2 separate regions of the Homo sapiens genome follow, and region 2 is linked to region 1. Evidence: fine-mapped expression QTL. A gene starts in region 1. The other region holds a variant in brackets. All regions are shown on one strand. Distances are from middle to middle.

What was found. PIP is the estimated chance that this variant, and not a neighbour inherited with it, causes the effect.
Region 2: its variant is fine-mapped to the expression of CD44-AS1 in monocytes after LPS (Quach 2016, PIP 0.95).

Annotation. Positions count from the first base shown.
Region 1 is chr11:35,213,657-35,216,577 of GRCh38, forward strand. It overlaps CD44-AS1 (CD44 antisense RNA 1), which reads right to left and starts at 1,354. Exons shown (of 2, transcript NR_174965.1): 1 at 1,175-1,354. It overlaps CD44 (CD44 molecule (IN blood group)), which reads left to right. Exons shown (of 18, transcript NM_000610.4): 15 at 1,196-1,258. RefSeq lists an enhancer at 584-1,783.
Region 2 is chr11:34,650,205-34,653,125 of GRCh38, forward strand. EHF (ETS homologous factor) reads left to right here. Exons shown (of 9, transcript NM_012153.6): 5 at 1,338-1,406; 6 at 1,533-1,601. Among named protein-coding and RNA genes, the nearest start is that of EHF, 31 kb to the left of the region's middle. RefSeq lists an enhancer at 440-689. The variant G/A (reference allele first, on the strand shown) is at 1,277.

The sequences.
Region 1 (2,921 bases):
AAAGAACTGAAGCATTTAGAATCATAGTGGCAGTGGTGGTGGTGGTGATGGTGATGGTGATGGTGATAATGATGGTGATGGGATGGTGACGGTCATGGTGATTTTGGTAGTGGGAGTATTGGTGTGGCATTTCAGCAAATGTTGTTTTCATTTGTTTTAACCATCAGCCAAGGAACAAAGCAATCTGTCTCTTCAATATAGTTACACAGGTGACTAAGTGTCACCCGCTTCCACCTTCTCTAATCAAGGAAATGGTGACGATCAGGTTACTATAGATTCCTTATAAGGTGCCTTCATAATGGATAACTGTAGCCATTTTATGTAAGCATTGTCCTGTGATTAAAAAAAAAAAAAGATTCCAGTATGCTTTTGAAAAATGTGGGTGGGGGAGAGAGTTTTAATATGCTGCATTCAAGATTTGACCTATGGATTTAGATTCTAGCAATTCATGAGGTTGTCTTAATCTAAAGCTTTCTGGTGATAGATGTTTGAGAAGCTAGGATTATATTAACTAGTCATGTTGAAACTACAGATTTAACTTTAAAAAATTATTTTAAACTTACTATAATACCCATATTCCAATACACATTATTAATGTTAGCTATCATCTCACCATTTCCTTTTTTACTTATTTTCAATTTTTTTTGAAAATAAGTAGTTGACCTTTCTCTTTGAATCTTTACATCATTCAATCCCAAGATTCCTTATTGCATACTAATTTCCTGCCGCCAAGAAATCTCTGTTTCATGCCCTAAGCCAGAGTATGCCCATTTGCAGTGATTATGTTTCTCATAATCCAATTCATATTGTCCTTATTTAAAATGTACAATGTCTAGTCTCAACCTCATACCTGCAAAGATATCACAATATTTTTGTTAGCATGTTCCTTACCACAGTTCTTGGATTTCTACCAAAACAAAGTTTCTACAAAACTTCCTGTGGTCATCCTTCTTAGCCTTTGCTGCCCCAGTTTCCTTAATTCTTATTAAAGTTCTAGCTCATTTATCAGTGGATTAAGCAATGAACGGTAATTAACATTGTGGACCCATTCAAGGCTGTTTTGCCATCATTTTTTGGAATACCTTAAAAAGACTAAACTTTGTGATAGGCTGTATAAGAATGCAAAGGTAAAGAAATGCAGATGGGAGTGTAAGTGAAAACATGCAGTACTGACCTTCCTGATTGCTCATTACAGGAGACCAAGACACATTCCACCCCAGTGGGGGGTCCCATACCACTCATGGATCTGAATCAGATGGTGAGTTCAAAACTGCTTTAGTCATTTACTGTTATAATCATTGAGCCTAATGATGACTACCAACGAAGTATGAGTCAGTGTCTCCAGAGAAGTGGTTCTCAAACCTTCTTAGCATACATCACAATTGCAGGGAGGGCTTATTAAACCACAATGCTGGACCCCACCCTTAAGGTTCCTGATTCAGTAGGTCTGGGGTGGAGCCCAAGCATTTGCATTTCTAATCAGTTCCCTGGTAATACTGACACTGCTGGGACAGGGATTGCACTTTGAGAGCTACTGCTCTGGAGGAAAGCCTTGCATCTGAAAGCCTCAGGAAGAATTCAAGCAGTGTCCCAATTTAACCTTGCACTACACCAGAGTGATTAAGAGCTTGAGCTTTGTAGCAAAAATGGCCTGAGTTCGATTCCAGCCCTCCGCATATTAACTGAGCAAGATGCTTTAAAGGGTCTGAGACAACATTTCTCAACTAATAAACTTGGAATAATAACAATTGTCACAGGACATTGTTTCAAAGACTAAATGATAGAATACATGTAAAGCATTTAGCATAATCCTGGCACATGATATCATCACTGGTATTTGTTGGGAATTTACTGTGTGCCAGCAGCATCTTTCTAAACACTTTACATGTATTAGGTTGGGCCAAATGGAACTGCCATTATTGTAGGTCAAGAACAGGTCAATATCGGCCAGGCACGGTGGCTCACACCTGTAATCCCAGCACTTTAGGAGGCCGAGGCAGGTGGATCACGAGGTCAGGAGTTCGAGACCAGCCTGGCCAACCCTGTCTCTACTAAAAATACAAAAATTAGCCGGGCGTGGTCCTGCGCACCTGTAATCCCAGCTACTCAGGAGGCTGAGGCAGGAGAATTGCTCGGACCTGGCAGGCAGAGTTTGCAGTGAGCCAAGATTGCACCACTGCACTCCAGCCTGGGTGACAGAGCAAGACTCTGTCTCAAAAAAAACCAAAAAACAAAAAACAAAAAAACAGGTTAATATCAGCAAATTCATAGAGTTTATCTAGTATGAACTCATTCAGTCATCCTATAAACTCTGTGACATAGGTAAGTACTATTATTATCCCCATGTTACAGATGAGGAAACTAAGGCTCAGAGAAGGTAAGTAACTTGGCAGAGTTGACAGGACCAGAGAGTGATGGAGCCACCTTTCAAGCCTGGAGGGCCTTGTATTACTTCTCATAGCACAGTCTGGAGAAGGCATTCCATAATGACCATAATTACTCCCAGGCATGAATTCTTAAATAGACTCCTGTTTGTTGTGATTCAGATCACACCCCTACAAACCTTACCCCAGACTGCAAAAGTCTGACATGAGGTAGGTTTACTAATTACTTCTACTGCTGGGCTACTGGGAGGTTCTGCCAGTGCTGCCTTACTGTGGTCTCCCTGAACATCATAAATCCAGGTGACCCCATGTAAATGATTTAAGCCATATCAATTATTGTCTCCCCTTTTTATGCCCAAGTTTGAGTGAGGCTCACCATCAGATTTAAATGTTTACACATTGAAAACAAATATGAAGATGGATATTTACATGGTGGCTTCCACAATAACTCTCTATGGAGGAGCACTAGGAGGTAGGGATTCATTAGAAATGCTTCTGAAATAGAGACAGAAGTCACAGGTTCACTGGGGACTTTAG
Region 2 (2,921 bases), 560 kb before region 1:
CTTCTTGACCATCCAGACATTCTTGTGTTGCCAGTTCAGAAAAGCTGAGTGGAAGGGTGGAGAAGAAGGTCCACCCTAGGAGGAGGGGAGAAGAAGCTCATAGAGGGGCCAACACCCCCATACCTCTTTGGTTCAGTTTGTTTTCAGAGACAACAACAGGTGTACAAGGTGACCCAACAAGGAGAGAGGGTGTAACCCCAAGAGATTGGGCTTGGGGTGTCCAAACATGTAGCTATTAGCTAAAATACCGGCTAAATCCCTATGTCGTAAACACGAGGACTTAGCCAGTAAGTCAGGTTTTGTATCATTTGTGCTATAAAAACAAAATGAAACTCAGTCAGTGGCTTACACCCCGGCCCTAAAACTCAGAACCCAGCAAGGAGGGGAGCTGAGGGTAACCTAGGTCTGCGGTGAGGAGAAAGCAGGAAGTTTCTGGTGAGGACGAGGTGAGAGATCTTACAGCTTTTGGCTAGCCAAGAAACAAAATGCTTCTGTTGGAGACCAGCCCAGATCTGGGGGTTGCGTAGGAGTTGAGCTCCATTTGGGGTAGGTGGAGGGGAGTTCCCTTTGAATCTGAAATCTGAAGAGTCAGTCAAAGTGAGAGGTGTTTACCGCAGCACACAGAAGAAAGAGAAAGAGAGACAGAGTACAAGAGCACTTCTTTTCTGCGATGGGGCAGTGGGGCTTCACTCTTAAAAGGTGTTTGTTTGATTTAGTAACACAGTCCACCCCTTCTCCTTGGTTTTGTTTTGAGAATTTTATGTCATCCTTTAAGCTAATTGGAAAAATCCTAGAGGGAGGGGGCTGTCACCCAACTTGGATGACAAATCTCTGGATTTCAGCAAGGAAGAAACTGTGATAAGATTGACAAGACTCTTCCTGAAAGAAATATCATTAACCCCCCAAGGCCTCATTAATTATTTATTATACATTTAAATAAATTAATCCCTAACAAGGCCTTCCCCCCCACCACACTCTAGGGTAAAAATATTCTGGTGATTATGCAGTAGAATGCAGAACAAAGCCAAGCCAGGTTAGGAAAATTCCCAGGAACCACTTGGTCTAGGACAGGTTCCCATTCTTGCAACTTCTCTCACTTCCCTAAAAATGCAATAGGTACAGAACACATGGATGAGGCCATTTCCCCGAGGATGCTGAAAGGAAAATTAGACAACATTATTATAAAGTAACGCAGCTGAAGCAGAATCATATCCCTTGTCTCTGAGGACCACTCCTCACCCCCCATACTTTGTTGATGAACAATGAATTAGAAAAC[G/A]CAGCCTCTTCTCCCTGGGGAAAAGAGATCGCTGACTATTCTCCTTCTCTATTTTTTGTAGAGCCTTCCATCATGAACACCTGGAAAGACGAGAACTATTTATATGACACCAACTATGGTAGCACAGTAGGTAACTAACTCCCTGACACTTAAGGCCCTTTACATTCTTATTCAGTTTGTCTAAGAGCCACAGTGTTCTATTGTGAGGTGGGGGGAGGGGGTGCTCTAAATGTCCTTTATCTTTTCATGGCCACAGATTTGTTGGACAGCAAAACTTTCTGCCGGGCTCAGATCTCCATGACAACCACCAGTCACCTTCCTGTTGGTAAGCTGTCATCACATCTGAGGCTGGGTATGCCTAATGCTTAGGGAGAATCAGTGGGAATTACCAACACTCTACATTTCTGCCTTTCTGGAGTCTTTCTAATTAAAGGGCTAGGAAAGGGATGGGGTTACCATTAGACGAGGTTTGCTTTTGAGGCAATATTTGTACATCGAAGATGACCCGTAGGGATCCTCTAGGCAAAATGTTGGTCTCCTACGAAACTAGTCACTCTGTTGTGACAATAAAAGTTGTTTAGGCTTTTCTTTATTTTCAATGAAAACTTACTCTTGCAATATAGCTGCTAAAATTATTCATATTTGGGTATACTTATGGGAAATAAGGCTATATTTAATTTTCAACAAACTACATTTGGCTTTAGAGAAAGAATACCTCATAGTAAAATTCAAAGGTCCGTGAACCTGTAGTGATAGTTTCTGGGTGAAGGGGTAGCCATTGGAAACTTCCAGAATCCCCACAGTTACACTATTTTGTCAGTTTTTAAGTCTAATTCCGATGACTCATCAGTGCTCTCTAATCAGTCAGAGCACCTGCATTTTATGAGTTACGTTCACTTTAGCTGCATTTGGTTAAGCTTGGATGCAACTGGGGCTATCCATGCTCCTTAACCAAGGTTACACTGGGTGAGAAGTTTGGGATGTTGGGAGTCTGGGAGAGGGGATTTCAGATTACCACCCCCACCTACAAATAGGTGCATTGGCGTGTACAGTGTGGGAAATGGTTGAAAGAGGATCTTATGGTTTCCCGTGATCTGAGTATGAACTTGTGGATCTCTTTGGGTCTATGAAATGGCACTTAGACATCAGTCACAAGTGATAGTGCCTCTCTCCTGGAATTAAATTTGGAGCAACTTCAGAAATGGGATTTAATTGGGTCTTTGTGAAAGAAATTAGTCTGCAACCCTTCCTTCCTCTTTTTTTCTGTTTTTGTTTTTGCTTTTGAGAACTGAAATAATGAAAGGTTTTGGTTTGAGGTTTTGTTTGGGTCAAGCCCCTTAAATGAGATGGGGCTGGGAGCCAATGTAAATGCTTCTGGAATTGAGATTAAGAGCTGAGGCCAGCATAGCTCTCGACTTCTCCTTCCCCCAGTGGTCCTTAGCATTATGTGTCACTTGAGGTATTTGTTAAAATTAGGGAATAGATCAAACACTGGCAAGGCTTGGCTGTGTATTTGCTATTCTGGGGGAACTGAGCCAACCGGGGTAAAATTTCTGTGGCAATCATTGCCACTCAGTCAAGACCATGGGGTTCAGGGCTGAGGAAACCTCCCAAGTCACACTCTGAGTTCCTCTGCGACTTCCTA